Homo sapiens: one gene and its partners. The protein of the gene in region 2 interacts with the protein of the main gene of each other region in a pairwise test. Each region holds a gene or a part of one and is shown on either strand. Other genes may lie near its edges.

What was found.
Region 1: the proteins of POC1A (region 2) and DLST interact in binary tests that used the Homo sapiens proteins (3 or more experiments, as listed by UniProt).
Region 3: the proteins of POC1A (region 2) and CDH1 interact in a two-hybrid assay, tested with the Homo sapiens proteins (one large-scale study listed by IntAct).
Region 4: the proteins of POC1A (region 2) and ATXN3 interact in binary tests that used the Homo sapiens proteins (3 or more experiments, as listed by UniProt).
Region 5: the proteins of POC1A (region 2) and PECAM1 interact in binary tests that used the Homo sapiens proteins (3 or more experiments, as listed by UniProt).

Annotation. Positions count from the first base shown.
Region 1 is NC_000014.9:74,884,703-74,888,549, forward strand, and holds part of DLST (dihydrolipoyllysine-residue succinyltransferase component of 2-oxoglutarate dehydrogenase complex, mitochondrial isoform 1 precursor), read left to right. Parts: intron 1-883; coding exon 884-932; intron 933-3,847. UniProt on the Homo sapiens protein: Dihydrolipoamide succinyltransferase (E2) component of the 2-oxoglutarate dehydrogenase complex. The 2-oxoglutarate dehydrogenase complex catalyzes the overall conversion of 2-oxoglutarate to succinyl-CoA and CO(2).
Region 2 is NC_000003.12:52,074,726-52,078,421, reverse strand, and holds the end of POC1A (POC1 centriolar protein homolog A), read left to right. Parts: intron 1-2,436; coding exon 2,437-2,535; 3' UTR 2,536-3,196; downstream 3,197-3,696.
Region 3 is NC_000016.10:68,833,665-68,836,384, reverse strand, and holds the end of CDH1 (cadherin-1 isoform 1 preproprotein), read right to left. Parts: 3' UTR 848-2,720; downstream 1-847.
Region 4 is NC_000014.9:92,103,783-92,108,012, forward strand, and holds the start of ATXN3 (ataxin-3 reference isoform), read right to left. Parts: upstream 2,801-4,230; 5' UTR 2,771-2,800; coding exon 2,747-2,770; intron 1-2,746. UniProt on the Homo sapiens protein: Deubiquitinating enzyme involved in protein homeostasis maintenance, transcription, cytoskeleton regulation, myogenesis and degradation of misfolded chaperone substrates.
Region 5 is NC_000017.11:64,318,647-64,321,966, reverse strand, and holds the end of PECAM1 (platelet endothelial cell adhesion molecule precursor), read left to right. Parts: 3' UTR 1-2,552; downstream 2,553-3,320. UniProt on the Homo sapiens protein: Cell adhesion molecule which is required for leukocyte transendothelial migration (TEM) under most inflammatory conditions.

The DNA of each region.
Region 1 (3,847 bases), on a different chromosome or scaffold from region 2:
AATTTGCACTGCATAGTCATTGGCTGCTGGACATAAAGGTGACTGGCTTACCTATCTTGGGATGCTTGTGAGGAGGTGGGCATAAGAGAGGGCTAGCTCTCATTTGGTGTGTCCTGAGCCCATGGTTCAGAAAGAGTTGTTAATCTGAAAGAAAAAAGACATAAGAAAGAATTCAGAAGAGGCAGCTGTAGTTACTAGTCATCAGTTGGGGAAATGCAGTTAACTATGATAAGGACAGCTGGTGGGCAGAAAGGGTCTCTCACCTTGTTGAGAGTGACCAGGGTGGAAGACTTCAGAAAGGCATGGGAAGTCAATAAACTGAAAGATGGGGACATGATTTTCTCAGCTCTAGGACAAACTGGAGACCCCGAGCCTAAAGTAGCCAAGTCTTTGCTACTAGGATTCAGGTGATAAGATTTCCAACCCAATCTTTTCAAACCCAGACCAAACATCCTCCTTGCTTCTCAAATTGGGTTATGTATAGTCACAGGATAAGCCATCCCATGTCTTTCTCAAGCTTCAGTTGTATTTGAAGACTTGGCGAGTAGAGACATTTTATTATGAAAACATACAGGAATAATGAAAAGTTCTGGCTTTTTAAGGTAGATGAGATTATATAATCACTTTGGGCTGTGCCATCAAATTTTTTCTCTTTCCTCCCCAGCCAAACACATACCCACTCGATCTCACATACCCATTTGCTCTCTGCCACTAAGGCTACTTTGGAAAAGTTTGAGAAGCAGGACTCTATGATAAAGATTATATCCGTTGCCGTTGATCCTGCTCTGTCTCAGGGTTGGGGGTGAGCAGACCTTTTCCATTCCCAGCATGTATCCTTTGTGAGATAAGAGTTGTTGGTTAAGAGTTATTTTGTTTCTTGCAGGGGTCTCCTTATGCCAGGGACCAGGTTACCCTAACAGCAGGAAGGTTGTGTAAGTATCACTGGGGAGTACAGATATGTGGCCACGGGTTATTTATTTAAAGACATAAAGTTCTAAATTTGACCATCTGATTTCTTCACTGGCCTCCAGACCTAGAAATTGAGGTGATTATGTTGAGTCCCTAGACTAACCTCAATGTTCACTTTTCCCATGTGATGTTCCTTGAGCATCAGCTCCGTGTCAGGTTTTGGACTGGGAGTGTGCCCACTCTCCACAGGTGTTTGGATTATAATGAAAGTTAAGTTGGAATCCTCTTTTTATGGGATATAGAAGGGTGCTCCTAGATATTCTGTTTGGATGTAAGTGCAGCTGAAAGGCTCGAGGTTACATTTATTGTGGAGATTGAGAGCATCCTCTCAGTAGCATAGTTACTCATTTTTAAAAACAGTAAAAGCATAAAACTGGTTGAGTCCTGGGACTGACTGACTAGTTTGGAGGGAATGCTGTTATTGCATAATGCAGAGTTTGGAGAAAGGCTACCCATGTGTGTTTCAGATTAACTTCTGCGTATGAATGTTGCTTAAATGCTGCTTTGCATTCCAAGTGTTTTTGTGGTGGTGCTAAGAGAATGCTCTCTAGTAACCTGTTCAGCAGCTGTCAGGCTGCTTACTCTACAGGGAGAATCCTCAAAGTGAAGAGGTCAGCGGATGAGCTTCTTACTTACTCTACATCACAATGAGGGTTTTTGTTGTTGTTGTTTTGAGACAGGATCTTGCTCTGCCACTTTGGCTGGAGTGCGGTAGCCTGATCTTGGCTCACTGCATCCTCAGCCTCCTGGGCTCAAGAGATCCTTTCACCTCAGCCTCCTGAGTAGCTGAGACTACAGGCACATGCCACCATGCCCGGTTGTTTTTTGTATTTTTTGTAGAGATGGGGTTGTTTTGCCATGATACCTGGGCTGGTGTCAAACTCCTGGGCTCAAGCAATCCATCCACTTGCCTTAGCCTCCCAAAGTGGAGGATACAGGCGTGAGCTATGGTGCCTGGCTGATTTTTTAAAATTTGAGTAAATGTTGCACTCAGTACTAGAAATATGAATCCCGGTGTTATTTTGGAGGGCAGTTTGATAGTCATAAGTCTTTGAAGTGTGTGTACCTTTTCTTTTTTTCTTTTTTTCAAGATGGAGTCTTGCTCTGTCACCCAGGCTGGAGTGCAGTGGCGCGATCTCGGCTCACTGCAGCCTCTGCCTCTCGGGTTCCAGCAATTCTCCTGCCTCAGCCTCCTGGGTAGCTGGGATTACAGGCGCACGCTACCACACCTGGCTGATTTTTGTATTAGTAGAGACGGGGTTTCATCTTGTTGGCCAGGCTGGTCTCTGAAACTCCTGACATCAGGTGATCCGCCCGACTCAGCCTCCCAAAGTGCTGGGATTACAAGCATGAGCCACTGCCCGGCCTGTGTGTTCCTTTTCATCTAGCAATTCCATCTCTAGGAATCTATACTGAAGAACTCCTGGTATATTTATCTCAGATTTAATATCTGATAATATAAATATTATCAGATTTATCTTAAAATGGCAAAGAGCAAGGGATTGGCTAAACTATAGCATGTTCACATGTTCACACTATGAAAAGTGGGAAAAAGCAGGTTACAAAATAATTTCATTTTCTACTGTGTGGTATGATCCCATTGTAAGTATTCTTTTTGCTATTTCTAATATTCTGTAGTGAACATCTAGTTATTTAGAGATTCAAAATGTATTACTCATCTGCAATCAAATGAAAATTGGGGCAATCATGACTCTCTACAATAAATACACTAAATATTTGAAAGTAAATAATGAAGAAAAAGTAAACTTTGTGTGGGATCACCCCAATCATGTCACCCTAATCCAGTATCTTTGTGTGTGTTGTGCCTTTTTTGTGAATAAGGTACCCACTTTATTTAATAAATCTTTTATTGTAAAACAATTTTTGGTTTTATGTTTTTACTAATAGTATTATATTTACATGATTAAAAATTCAAAAAGTAAAAAGGGTGTCCATGAGAAGACTTTTTTATCCTTGTCCTCTAGCCCCCCGAATGCCTCTTGGGTAGTGGTGGCCACCACTCCGGGTTCCTGGATGACTTGCAGAGCAGCCTCTGCACTTGCATGTTACCTGTTAGTTCTTGCCTATAGGCATGTACTTTACAAGGTTACAAACTATATGTAGAACAATTTGTATTCTTGTAGTTTTTAAATATCTTCATTTTTTCTTGGTTATACATAGACCTTATAGTTATTTTGACATTATAAAAGTAAAAATACCTAAAGACAACTTAAATCTCTTTTACTTTTCTATTATAAAAATGCTTGTTGTGGAATATTCAGACAATCCTGAAGTGTAAAAAGTGAAAGTCCCCATCCAAATCATTCTCCCAAATTGTGTAAGTGTGCAACACATAACCAGAGATACCATATATGTCTACATCTCTCACCCCTCAGAGGTAACCACTGTTAATGGCTTTGTGCATACAGGGTGAGCTGATTCTCCAGTTTATATTATTTACTGTAAAGGCCATATCAGTAAACGCCTTGGTCTTTGAGGTTCGTTTTGAATGAATCCAGAATGTGTTGATGTGCTGTTTTCTAGCAAGAGAACCGAGTAGGAGATACCATATGGGGTTTGTGTGTGGTTTTTTTGTTTTTGGGTTTTTTTTTTTTTTTTTTGGCATAACACCTTGTTTTACTTCCGAGTTAACCTTGTTAATCTTGCTGCCTTATCTGATCTAAATCTGTTATCTTGAGGGCAGAAATTCCATTATACCTTGCACAATGGCTTGTACCCTGGGCAGGCCGTAAATCTATCTCGGATTTAGTTAAGGAAGAGACCTGGCTGGACATGGTGACTCACTCCTGTAATCCCAGCACTTTGGGTAGGATCTTTGAGACCCGTCTGGGCAATGAAATCCATAGTCTACAAAAAG
Region 2 (3,696 bases):
TTTTAAGAAAAATATAAAAATTTTTAAGAAAGTAGGATTTTTTTTTTTTAACTACATGGAGCAAAGAGTGCCAGACAGCATTCTAATGTACAGAAATCCAAAAAGCATCCTGCTCTCCCAGGCCTTCTCCTGGCTCAGAGTGGGGGCAGCTGGGATCACGTGTGCTGGGAAGGGCCTGGTTGGACTTCTTTCTCCCTGATGGTGGCCACCACGAGGCACCTTGGCAGAGAAGGAACAGGGGAAGCTGAGACCAAACACAGAGATGACACAGCTCCTCTGAAGCTAGGCTGGAGGGGGAGAAACTGCCTTGAGGGGTGTTGGGCCTCATAAAAGCCTGTTTGTCTACTGTGCTGTGAAGTGATCCTCAAAGCTCTCAGAGGAAGGCCTCAACGGGGTGGCACCCTTCATGCAGGGGGCTGGTTGTGAAACAGGTGATGCTTCTCTTTTCAAATAATTTAGACACATTTAGTGGTCACATTCCTACTGAGCTGAAGTATGGGCCCCCTATGGAACTAAGTGGAGTCCCTTGTATTGACGTTGGCCCAGCACCTCACCCACGTTTTCTGGGCCCACTATCTCCACGTTTGCAAATTGGGTTCCTGTGAAAAGTTTCAAGAAAAAAAAAAAGGCAGAAGAGGAAAAACAGGCTCCTCTGCTGCGGCCTTGAGTTTGGGGCCATCGGAAAAAGTCTGGATGAAGAATGATTTTGGCCCTATGAGTTTCACAGCAGCCAGTGGAAACTTCCAGGAATGCTGCCCCGGGCCAGCCAGGGGCTGTTTCCGCTGCCACTTTTACGAGCTGCAGACCCCCTCCCCGGCTGGCTGGCCAGCACAGGGGGAATGTGATGGTCTCTTTCAGCTCAGCTCTGCCTCTTAGGGTGCAGTTTGTGTTCCATGGGCAGCAATTTTTCCAGGCTCTGTCCAGTGACAGAGGGTTCAGAGCCCTCACAGCCCTGATTGGCCCATTTAGAAGGGGCCAGCCACCAGGCGGAGCACCCTCCATGGCAGCTAATGTCTGTGCCGGACGCTGCAAGAATTTATAGCAGCCTTAAAGGGGGAGACTCCCTTCTAAAATGTTTCAATGTTTTATTAAATGTATGAAAGAAAGTTTCCTTTCCACTGGACCAAGGCCCAGGACTTCATGGAGCCCCAGGGAAGGGGGCAAAACCTCTTGGGAAAGCACACGGGTGAGGTTAATCTGACCCTCCTGATGCCTATGGGCTGCACAGTACCGGAGTCAAGGCTGCCATACTCACATGGGCTCATCCATTGGCCAGCAGGGGCCTGGCATACAGTAAGGCACTCAGCCAACCCTAAAGAGGGAAGTGAAATGATGCCAAAGGCGTCATGGCCAGCATGGTCCAACCCGCGCAAGTGATGAGTGGGGCAGGCTTGCTCTGGTCCAGCCCCTCTTTGGGGAGCATGCAGGCTCCCAGACAGTGCTGCCCCTCTGCTGACACTCTATCCAAAGCCAGAGGAGGAGGGCAGCTTTTCCCAGCCTGTCTGGGAGCTATGTCTGCAAGACTGGCCCTGGCCCATGAAGCACATGCAGCTCCAGCAGCTGGGGGCCTTTGGCAGGCCAGGCAGCCAGGTCCGCAGGTGAGCCATTGTGCTGGGTGTGTAAGAGAGGCCAGGAGAGCAAGGGCCCAGCTTCAGGAAGGCAGCATGATCTGCCTGACAAGCACTCTGACAAGCATGGTCAGAGTGAGCAACTGCTGGGCTGCTGAGTTACCTAGGCCATGAGCTTGGTTGTCTTTCGCACTGGGCGAAGGAGGAGAAAGTGGGCTCAGAGAGATGAAGTTGTCATGGCCTGTGATTGCCCTGGGCTGAAGTCCCACATGACATATCCTATAGTAGTATTCGTTGGACTTGGACAGGCAGAGACCCTCCTGGGATCAGGGGACTCACCTCCCTGCCTTTGTCCCCTGCCAGCCTGGGAGGCTCTTCCAGGTGTGAGGGGAAGGACCCAAGTGGAGTGCCATCATTTGTGGGTGCAATTTTCTCACCTCTGGAGTGGAGGTGGTTGATGGTCTCCAGTTGTTTATGGACAGTGCCTGGCTCAGACAAGGAAACTGGTTTTGCTGCAGAACTCCAATATAAATGCCAGGCCACCAGGGTGGGGGGTTCCTGACCCCTTGGTTCTCTTGAGAAATGACCAAAGGCTATGGGACCTGCCATCTAGTTTCCCTCACTGTGTCCCCACCCCCTGCCCACAAACATTATAGATCAGCCATCCAGAGCCAGGAGAAGCAGACATAAAGGCAAGGGCTATCCCAATAGCACCAGAGACAAGGGGCCTGGCAGAACCCCTGGGTGGAAAGAGCCAGCTGGCATTTGGGCAGTGGCTGAGGCAGCCAAGTGGGGACTGGCCAAGGGGGTCCCTAGAGCAGCCTGGCGGCCCTTCTGTGTTCTGACCCAACCACTGTTTATTTTGCAGACAGTCTCCATTCTGGAGCAGCGGTTGACACTGACAGAAGACAAGCTGAAGCAGTGTCTGGAGAACCAGCAGCTAATCATGCAGAGAGCAACACCATGATCAGGGGAGCAGGAATCAGGAGCTCGGTGGATTTGCAGGTGGCAGGCCAGGGATTTGTACCATGGGACTTGGGTAAATAAAGGGGACTGAACTCTGTGGGAATCACATCCATACTGGAGCCCTGGATTTTTGCAGTTCTGCCCTCCACCTTGCTATCTGCACCAGGAGGCTCTCCACCTGGCAGCCAGAGGTCCCCAGTGGGCCGGGCTCACACACAAATGATGCTTCAGACCCGAATGAGAGGACCACATTTTGCTTAATGTAAAGGAGCCACTTGAAAATGTCTGCTCCTTCGGGGTCCTGAGATTGTGGCTCCCCCTCTGGAGGAGGTGGCTCCACGATGCCTTGATTTTCACTCATCATTTGGACATGTGACTGGCTTTTCCTACCTCTGCCATGGTGTAGAAATTGATTGCACATTGATTGGATGAGCCGGGGGTTTTCTCTAAATCTGACTAAAGGCCCAAAGTGGGCCCATCTGAGTCAGGTTTGTTGAGAACAAGCCCTCTCAAGTGGGTGGTGGCTTTTCAGTGGCCCTGATTTCTGTTCCACACGTGTTCACTGGAGCCAGGTGACTTCCTCCTTGCGTGAGTGAGGGCACAGGAATCTCAAAATTAAACCTGACTTCATTGCACTTGTTGCAGGAGTGGCTTATGCTGGATGACACTTAATCAATCTTCCCATCCCCAGGGCCCAAACAGAATGAGAATGGTGACTTGGGACGGCCTCTGCCAGGATTGCCTCTGAGGCCAGGACCCCCCTGTTTGCAGCTGTTCAGGGTGTCGGGGAACAAGGGCAGTCAGAGCCCTTGCATGCACCCACCTCCCTCTGGCTGGCCCCCACTGACTGCTTCTGTTGGGACTCAGAGGCCTCAGGCACCCAAGTTTCCATTTGCTCCTGAGGGCTTCCATAGGGTCCTCCCTCTGCCCCTGTGCTGGGGAAGCCAGGACAAATGTTTTCCCTGTGTCTGTGTGTCGCCCGTGCCTTCCGTCTTCAGCTTCTTGGGGCTCAGCCAGCCAAGGAGGTCTTTATCCTCAAACACACCTGCCCTGCCCTGGGGAATGGGAGGTGGTGTTAGATCGTCCCAGGAGCTGTCAGTACCACGTGGTCAGTGGGTTCACAGCCTCTGCAGCCTCCAGGTGGAAGCAGAGCCTGCATGCC
Region 3 (2,720 bases), on a different chromosome or scaffold from region 2:
CCCCTTCAACAGAGAAAAGTTTTAGGCTTACACCAGGGTTTCTTAACAGTGGCTGACATTTTGTGCTGGATAATTCTTTGTTGTGAGGAACTGTCCCGTGCAGGGATGTTTAGCAGCACCCCTGGCCTTGATGTGGTGACAAGACCACCTCCCCAGGTACTCCAGAAATTGCAAAATGTCACATGGAGGAGGGGGCTACATTCTTCCCCAGCAGAGAACCACTGGCCTGTACTCACTTGCTGACCCCGAGAACATCGTTTGAAACTTTGCTCTGTCCCGTCCTTCAGCTTGGCCCACACAGTCTCCCGTGGACATGGGAATTTTATTGGTTTCATCACATGCCACATGGATGGATACTGTTCAAATAAAGTTACCATGTGAATGTAGTTTCTCCCATGTTCATCCAGTAGAATGATAGAAACTTCTGGAGAAGTCACTTCAGCATGAAGTTTTTTAAAAATTTTTTTATTTTTTTGAGATGGAGTCTCCTCTGTCACCTAGGCTGAAGTGCAGTGGCGCAACCTCGGCTCACTGCAACCTCTGCCTCCTGAGTTCAAGTGATTCTCATGTCTCAGCCTCTCGAGTAGCTGGGACTACAGGCGCGCGCCACCACGCCCAGCTAATTTTTGTGTTTTTGTGGAGACAGGGTTTCACTACGTTGCCCAGGCTGGTCTCAAACTCCTGAGCTCAAGTGATCTACCTGCCTCGGCCTCCCGAAGTGCTGAGATTACAGGCATGAGCCACCGCGCCCGGCCTCTTTCTCCACGTTTTGACTGAGGCCATCTCCATGCATCTTTTCTCTTGACTGGAAATGTGGTGGAATCAAATAAAACAAATTTGACAATGGTTTAACAAAATTGTTTAATAAAATTTATAAAAATGCATCTTTGAGAATACTTTTCTCAGCTTGAATTGTTTTCCTTTTCCACCCCCAAAGAAAATACACAATTATCAGCACCCACACATGTATACACTCAAAACTACAGTGACATTCTCTACACAGAACTATATTCGATATAGCTTGAACTGCCGAAAAATCAAGACAATTCCAAAAAGTGATTGCAGGGTTGATTTTTTTCTCCAAAACACTTGAGAAACAGTAAAGCTATTTCAACAAAAGTCTTTTCTTTGATTGTCAAAAGTTGAAATTCACATTTAAATAAAAAGAGATCCAAATCAAGATCCTCACTACCCCCTACCCCTCAACTAACCCCCTTTAGGGCCACATTTTCTTCTTGCTCCTAAGAAAAAAATTTGGAATTTTGAATATTCTCGGTTTTCTGTGCACACCTGGAATTGGGCAAATGTGTTCAGCTCAGCCAGCATTTTCTGTAGACATCATCAAAAGCAGGCACTTGGGGATTCTGGGCTTTGAGTACAAACCACGGATCTTGTGTCAGAAACACATGTTGAGACTCCTCCATTCCTTCCAGAATTTTCAGAGATGAGGTAGACCCACCTCAATCATCCTCAGCATCAGTTTGCTAAATTGCCAGGCTCAATGACAAGCTCTCCTGCCATCTCCAAGCCCACTTTTCATAGTTCCGCTCTGTCTTTGGCTGCAGCACTTTAGGCACTATTCTAAGTCCTGGAGTATATCACTCTTGCTTCAGAGCTAAATAAACATTAATGAACACACTTACTCAGAACAAGTCACTGGATAGCTGCCCATTGCAAGTTACATACTCAGGAGATGAAAGAGGGAAGCCATTAAAGGTCTTCAGAGTAGACAATACCTAGTCAAGATGTGGCCAGACAAAGACACAAACTTCTTACCCTAAAAGAGCCCAATAATTTCTGCATCAGAGAACTCCTATCTTGGGCAAAGCAACTGAATTCAGGAGTGAGAGTTGATATTAAAACATGGAGGCTGGGCACAGCAGCTCATGCCCACAATCCCAGCACTTTGGGGGGCCAAGGCAGAAGGATTGCTTGAGGCCAGGAGTTTAAGACCAGCTTGGGCAACATAGCAAGACCCCATCTGTACAAAAAAATAAAAAGGAGGCTGGTGGGAGAACTGCTTGAGCCCCAGAGTTTGAGGTTACAGTGAGCTATGATCACATCACTGCATCCCAGGCCTGGGCGATGGAGCGAAACTGTCTCTTAAAAAATGGCAGGGAGTTGGGGAGCTGGGCAGGTGCAGTGGCTCATGTCTGTAATCCCAATACTCTGGGAGGCCAAGATGGGAGGATCACTTGAGCCCAGGAGTTTGAGACCAGCCTGGGTAACACAGGGAGACCCCGTCTCAAATATTTAAAAAATTAGTCATGCGTAGTGGTGCATGCCTGTGGTCCCAGCTACTTGGGAGGCTGAGGTGCAAGGATAGCTTGAGCCTGGGAGGACAAGGCTGCAGTGAGCTGTGATTGCACCACTGCACTCCAGCCTGGCCGATAGAATGAGACCCTGTCTTAAAAAAAAAAAAAAGGCAGAGGGACACACCAGTGTAGTAATGAGCAGAAGCACACAAATTTTTTTTAAAAAATTATATACACAAAACAACAGAACTAGAGTAGCTGACTTCTCCCCTTCTTTTTAAAAGTGAGACAAAATTCCTTAAGAAAATCTGCAAGGTGCTGGGTGAACCTTCTGATGCTAAAGTTGTTCTTCTGGAATATTAAAATTTGGGTATCTTTTGGACATCACCACCATGTAAAGAGTGATGGGAAAAAAAAAAAAGCTTTAAGAAATAAGTCGAAACTTTTCTAACACAAACTTATTAG
Region 4 (4,230 bases), on a different chromosome or scaffold from region 2:
AGGAAATGGTTGCAAGGCCCTTCGTAGGCAGATATTGCTACCTACACAGCTTCTTTAGGGCCAAAGTTGGTTCTCTGGCTCTCCAAACCCAGGACCTAGCAAGGGTTAAAGGTATATTGCAGAGGGGAAGGCAGTGAACGGAAAAATGGCACAGTAAGCCCAAACATTCCCAGAATGGACTGTATAGGAGATTAACAATTGGGCCATATGGTTATAGGTGCGTACTCTTGAGGACGCCCAAAAAACTAAATTGTTGAATCTTCACATGCTATGTAGATACAAGTTGATGATAATGGTAAAGGTATTCCTGAAGTATCTGTAGGCCTATACACATGCTGATAATTAAGAGGGACTCTTTTTTCCTTTTCTTTTTTTTGAGACGGAGTCTCGCTCTGTTGCCCAGGCTGAAGTGCAGTGGCACGGTCTCGGCTCACTGCAACCTCTGCCTCTCGGGTTCAAGCAATTCTCCTGCCTCAGCCTCCAGAGTACCTGGGATTACAGGCGCCTGCCACCACACCTGGCTAATTTTTTGTATTTTTAGTAGAGACGGGGTTTCACCATGTTGGCCAGGCTGGTCTCAAACTACTGACCTCATGATCCGCCCGTCTGGGCCTCCCAAAGCACTGGTGTGAGCCACTGCACCCAGACTAAGAGGGATTTCTTTCGGGTAAGTAGATTTTCACTAGGCTAGCACTCAGCTTTTTTTCATCCCATGGGTCAGTACAAATGTGTCCCAACTAGGTAACAATATTGTTAAAAATCTTGTCTAATTCTCAGGAAGTAGTGTGGAACATGTTTAAGGCCTTCCATGTTGAAATGTGGTCCCACACCAAAGCCTTTGAAAATTAATAACAAAAATATGGCCGGGTGCGGTGGCTCACGCCTGTAATCCCAGCACTTTGGGAGGCCGAGGCGGGCGGACCACCTGTCAGGAGTTGGAGACCAGCCTGGCCAACATGGTGAAACCCTGTCTCTACTAAAAATACAAAAATTAGCTGGGCGTGGTGGCGGGCGCCTGTAATCTCAGCTACTGGGGAGACTGAGGCAGGAGAATCGCTTGAACGGGGAGGCGGAGGTTGCAGTGAGCCATGATGGCGCCATTGCACTCCAGCCTGGGTGACAAGAGCCAAACTCCATCTCAAAAAAAAAAAAAAAAAAGTACGTGTGTATTTTTCACGCACTCTACTCAGCCAAGCAACCAAATCTCTATTGTCTATGATTTACGAGTCATGTCAATCAAGTCAAAAAATTAGTGACAACTATACGACTGAGTCCTTCCTCCCCCACTGAACATCAGCCTATTTCAAAAGTTTCCGAGATGTTTTCTACAATGAAAAGCATTGTACTTAACAATTTGTTCCAGGCACAGTGGCTCACGCCTGTAATCACAGCACTTCGAGAGGCCGAGGTGGGAGAATCACCTGAGTCCAGGAGTTCGAGACCAGCCTGGGCAACACAGCGAGACCCCGTCTCTCCCAAAAACATTACCTGGCCCTGGCGATATGCACCTGTAGTCCCAGCTACTCTGGAGGCAGAGGCGGGAGGATCGCTTGTGCCTAGGAGATCAAGGCTGCAGTGAGCCATGATCTCTCCATTGCACACCTGCCTGGGTGACAGAATGAGACCCCATCTTTAAAATAAAAATTAAAAAAAATTTATGCTACAGATTTACATTTGGTAAATGTATTCTTTTGTCTTTGCTTTATTTGTTGTGTGTGTGTGAATTTTAAATGTCTGGGATAAATGATCATTTATAAGTATTTAATAAAACAAAAACCCTTTGCTCCTCCTATTAAATAACAGCCTTACCAGCAACTCTTTCCAAACACGAAACTATTATGAAACATGATACCATGTGCCAAAGCTGTCCTGGGGAAGGCTTCACTCACACACAAATGGCTGGATAATAGTATGAGAGAAACGAGGAGTTTCTTTACATATCACAAACAGTATCTTCAAGTGCATGGTCACGGAAGAGTTAAAGGGACAGCAGGCTAGGCAGACTACAACAAAATCATCCCAGTCCACTCCTAATACCTAAAAACAAAGCTGGCCGCCTGCTCCGGAAAGATGGGAGTACCAAAAGAAACCAAACCCAAACATCCCGTAATAAAAACTCTTGTGACGACTTCCCTGTTTAGGGGCACGCCGGGTTTCCTACTTCACTTCCTAAATGTCAGGCCCTACAGTGGGCGAGCCAAGGTCTCCTCCCTCGGGAGGCTCGCGGACCTAGTGCAGGGGAAAGACACGAACAAGACCCCAAAGATCTACGTGTAGGGAAGACTCCAATATAGAATTGAGCAGTCCGGAGGAGGAAAAGTTAATTCTGCCAGGATTAGGGTAGGAGGGGTTGAGGGAGGTGTCCCAGAGATGACTCTAGCTAGACCCTAGGGAGAGGGAAGGATTGGGGAGGGGTGAAGGAATCCTCCGAAAAGCGATGGAAAGTGACGGAGAAAGGCAGAAGCAAACCCACTGGGCGCCACCCCACTCCCGTGTCCCGAGACGCCCCCGGCCCCGCCCATACTCCCTCCCGGCTCCCAGGGCGGGGGCCGCGGGGGAAGTAGGGGCGTAGGTGATGCTCCCCTCCTCGAGCCGAGGAGGCGGGAGGCTGCGGCGTCGCCCCTCGCCGGGCGAGATCGGCATGGGGGCGACTCGGGCCCCACCCAGCCCTCCGAGAGGCGGTGATGCCGCGCTCCACGCCCGCCACCGCGCGGCAGACAGCTCCCCACCGAACGCGGACACTCACTTTCTCGTGGAAGATGGACTCCATGTTTATTTGTCTGGAGCCAACGGCCCCCACGCCGAACCACCCCCTCCAGCTCCGCCCCCTGCCCCTCTCCTCCGCCCACCCCGCCCCTCCCCGGCCCGCCCCGGTACCCCGCCCACGTGCCGCACGCAGACCAATCACCCGTGAGGATGCGAGTGTCGTGAAGCGAAGAGCGAGTGAACGCCGGGGACACGTGACCTTGGTAGCGCGTCCTCCTAGCTTCTGTTAGCGGGCCTTCTGGGGGATGCTACATCGCCACCTGCTGTCTGGAGGATCTTCTCCGCTTCCCACCCATTTCTATGGATTCTTAGGTTTCTGGGGGGAGGTCTGGACCGCTCACCTGGGTTCTATGTTCTTTTTGTTTTCCACTTTGACTTTCTACTGTGTTCATATAACTATTTACTTTCTTTCTCCTCCTCCTGCACTGAAAGTTTAGTAAGAAAAAAGCCATCATTACATTCTCCCAAAACCCAGCACTTGTATAAAAATGATAGCTAGGCCGGGCGAGGTGCTTCACGCTTGTAATCCCAGCACTTTGGGAGGCCGAGGCGGGCGGATCACCTGAGGTCGGGAGTTTGAGATCAGCCTGACCAACATGGAGAAACCCCGTCTCCACTAAAAATACAAAATTACCCGGGCGTGGTGGTGCATGCCTGTAATCCCAGGTACTCGGGAGGCTGAGGCAGGAGAATCGCTTGAACCCGGGAGGCCGAGGTTGTGGTGAGCCGAGATCGTGCCATTGCACGCCAGCCTGGGCAACAAAAGCGAAACCCCTCCCCCACCACCCCAAAAAAGAAAAAAAATGATAGTTAATATTTACATAAGGCTTTCTATGAGCTAGGCACTTTTCTAAATGCTTTGCATATATTATCAAATTTAATACAGCAAACTTTGATGTAGGTGTTGATGTTATTCATACACATGAGGAAACCGAGGCACGGAGAGGTTAAGAACAGCACAATGTCCAAGGTCAGATAGTAAGTTGTCTTGCCAGGATTCAAATCCAGGTGGCTTGTTACCAGTGTAGGTGTTCGGACCCTTTAGAGGGAACTTAGAAGTCCCATAAATTGTGTGGGAGACGGGGAGGTAGCAGCGGTTTGATGAAACTTAAATGGAAGGATAGGTGCAGATCTTGCACCTTGAAACCAGATTAAGGTGTACTTTTTTTTTTTTTTTTTTTGAGACGGCCCTCTCTCTGTCCCCCAGGCTGGAGTGCAGTGGCACAATCTCCCCGCTCACTGCAACTTCTGCTTCCTGGGTTCAAGTGATTCTCTTGCCTCAGCCTCCCAAACAGCTGGGATTACAGGCGTGCACCACGAAGTCCAACTATTTTTGTATTCTTAGTAGAGAAGAGGTTGTACCATGTTGGCCAGGCTGGTCTCGAACCCCCAGCCTCAGGTGATCCACCTGCCTTGGCCTCCCAAAGTCCTGGAATTACAGGCGTGAGCCACCGCACCTGGCCA
Region 5 (3,320 bases), on a different chromosome or scaffold from region 2:
GTCAAAGGATCAGACGACCTCTAACGACCTTCATGTCTCTGTTGATGATCTGGGGACAGCCAGATCCCCTGTGTCCAGGGAGTTCCTTAGTCCCTTGCCACCACCAGAGAAGGGCAATTGCCACGGGAGCTGCAAAGACCCTATTCCTACTCCTGGTGCCTTACTTATGCAGCACGACTGAATTTTTTGTTTTGTTTTGTTTTGTTGAGACAGGGGCTTGCTCTGTTGCCCAGGCTGGAGTGCAGTGGCACAACAATGGCTCACCGCAGCCTCGAACCCCTGGGCTCAAGCGATCCTCCCATCTCAGCTTCCTGGGTAGCTGGGACCAGAGGCGTGAGCCGCCATAGCTGGCTAATTTTTAATTTTTTTTTTGCAGAGATGAGGTTTCACCATGGTGCCCAGGCTGGTCTCGAACTTCTGGGCTCAAGTGATCCTCCCTCCTTGGCCTCGCAAAGTGCTGGGATTGCAGGCATGAGCCACCGCCCCCGGCCTGTGGAGCACACATGAGTTTAAAATTACTTTCCCTTCTGCCTATATTTCCGAGGAGGAAACTTCATGCGCAGGGATCTTTCTTAGTGGATTTAATGGCTAAAAGGTCTGTCTGAATCCAGGACGCTGGCTTTAGCCTTCCTCGGCAGCTGCCGTAACCCCGGTGTCTAAACCTGAAGCATCCCAGGAGCACCCACTCCAGGAGTTTTCTCGGCCGCGGAACTCATTAGTTAGAGCGCCCTCTTGTGTTCTCATGTGGTAATCGGTCACTGAAGGACTTAAAATGGTCCTTAGCCAACACACAGTAAAACTTTTCCCTCTTCTGACCCCAAGAGGTCAGCCACCCATTTCATGAGCATATACTGGTCGCCCCATCAGCGTTCTCTGATTGGCTAACTGAACCCACTCCCCGACCTAGACTCAAGACAGGCGAAGTGACGCTTAGGTCAACATTCACTCACTAAAGCAACGACTGTCGGGCGATTTTGTCTCCCGCTGGTTTTGGAATGGTGTCTGGAGACATTTTTGGTTGTCACAGCTGGGTGGGTGTGCTCCCGGCATCTGGTGGGTAGAAACCAAGCATGCTCCTAAACATCCTACAGGCACAGAACCGTCTCCCACGACCAAGCATGATCAAGTCCCAAATGCCAATAATGGCCAGGTTGAGAAACTCTGCACAGAAGCATCCAGTTATTTGTCTGTTTGCTCAACAAGCTTGTGCTCATCATGCTCTGTGTTCCTGACGCTGTGCTGGGTGTTGGCGGTGGGAAGATTACAAGAGTCACATGGCAGCTGTCCTCCTGGAAGGTACAACCCAGTAGAGATGCAGACTAACAGAGAGCCAATTACAAAGCAGTGTGACAAGCGTCATGGTGGAAAATTAAAAGCTCAAACAAGGGCACATGGGAGGGGCTTCCAACACAGACTTTGGGGGATCCAGGAAGGTCTAAGAGGAAAGTGGGTCTCACCAAAGCCTTGACCATAGGCAGAGGGTACCAGTGGAAAAGGTGGGGTGAAGAACATTGAGGACAAAAGGAAGAAGTGCAGGAAGGCCCTGAGGCAAGGGAGTGGGGGGTGCCCTGGAGGGATGGCAGCAGGGCAGTCTGTCAGACCCAAGTGGCCTCCAGCCCTAGAAGCCAATTAGTCCTCCTCAAAAAGCTGTCACTGTCCCCTAAGAATTGCTGCCAGGCTCCCACTGGCCTGACTCAGTCTTTGAGAGTCTTAAGGAGGAGGTCTCTGAAAGGTACACACCAAGAACTCTCCCCAGCACAGCTGTTTTTAAGACTCTCCACCAGCGTCATTGGCGTGTTGGGAAGAAACCCTCTGCCACAGAGGCCAGCTTCAGCCTTTGCCTAACACCGCAAGGGCAAATGGAAAGGTAAACGGGAAGGAGATGTCTCCCCAGCAGGCTATTTGAGGACAGTCTTCCCTGCAGAAGATCTCAACCTGGGGTCCACAGAGTGGAAATGTTAGAGTAGGGAGCTAGGCAAACATGAGCAGGACAGGTGAGGGCCCCCACAGGAATGTCAGGCTACCATCAGGTGATGGTCAGGTGGTTGTTAAACTGTCTCTGTAAAATAATAATTGGTTGCAGCCAGCTCCAAGCAAGGACAGTCTCTCAATAGATACAAAACACCCTGATCTGGTGATCAGCCGCTTCCCGATAAGATCTCAGGAGCTGGGCAAGCAGCCTGGAGCATGCGCACCAAGAGGCAAAATGGCGGAATTTAACCAGTATATGACCTACCTTCCTCTGGGAACGCACGACTGGTAAGGGGAAAAATGCCTCAAGTGAGCATGCGCGCAACTTCAGTAATCACACTGTGCATGCGACCCCTTCCAAGTGCTGGCAGGTCACCACATACGCGGACAGCCTGCTGCAAGGGAAGAATCAGGGGAGATGAGACGTAAATCCCAGAACTATGCCAAATACATAAAACCCCAAGTTAAGGGTCAGGCAGGGCACTTAGATCTCTCAAGTTGCCTGCCTGACCCAAGTGTAGTGTACTTCCTTTTGTTCCTGCTCTAAAACTTTTTAATAAACTCTCACTCCTGCTCTAAAACTTGCCTTGGTCTCTCCCTGTGCCTTAAAACCACTTAAAACCACCTCTGCCCCTCAGCTGAGTTCTGTCTTTGAGAAGGCAAGCATCAAGTTTGCTGCAGACCCATTGGATTCACCACTGGTAACAGAAGTTGGGGTAAGGCGTGGGGCCTGAGAATTCTCTAAGAGTAGGTGCAGCCGGGCGCGGTGGCTCACGCCTGTAACCCCAGCACTTTGAGAGGCTGAGGTGGGTGGATCAGCTGAGGTCAGGAGTTCGAGACCAGCCTCAATATGGGGAAACCCCATCTCTACTAAAAATACAAAATCAGCCGGGCGTAGTGGTGCATGCCTGTAATCTCAGCTACTCGGGAGGCTGAGGCAGGAGAATTGCTTGAACCTGGGAGGCAGAGGTTGTGGTGAGCCAAGATCGAGCCATTGCACTCCAGCCTGGGCAACAAGAGCGAAACTCTGTCTCAAAAAAAAAAAAGAGTAGGTGCAAAAGGTTATGAGGGTGTGCAGTTTTCTATGGGAGAGAATCCATAGCTTTTATCCATGTCTTTGTTTGTTTTGAGATAAAGAGTCTTGCTCTGTCACGCAGGCTGGAGTGCACTGGTGTGAACATGGCTCACTGCAGCCTTGACCTCCCGGGCTCAAGCAATCCTCCTGTCTCAGCTTCCCAAAGCTGGGACCACAGGTGCCCACGACCACACCCAGCTAATTTTTAATTTTTTTGTAGAGATGAGGGTGTTACTATGTTGCCCAGGCTGGTCACAAACTCCTGGGCTCAAGT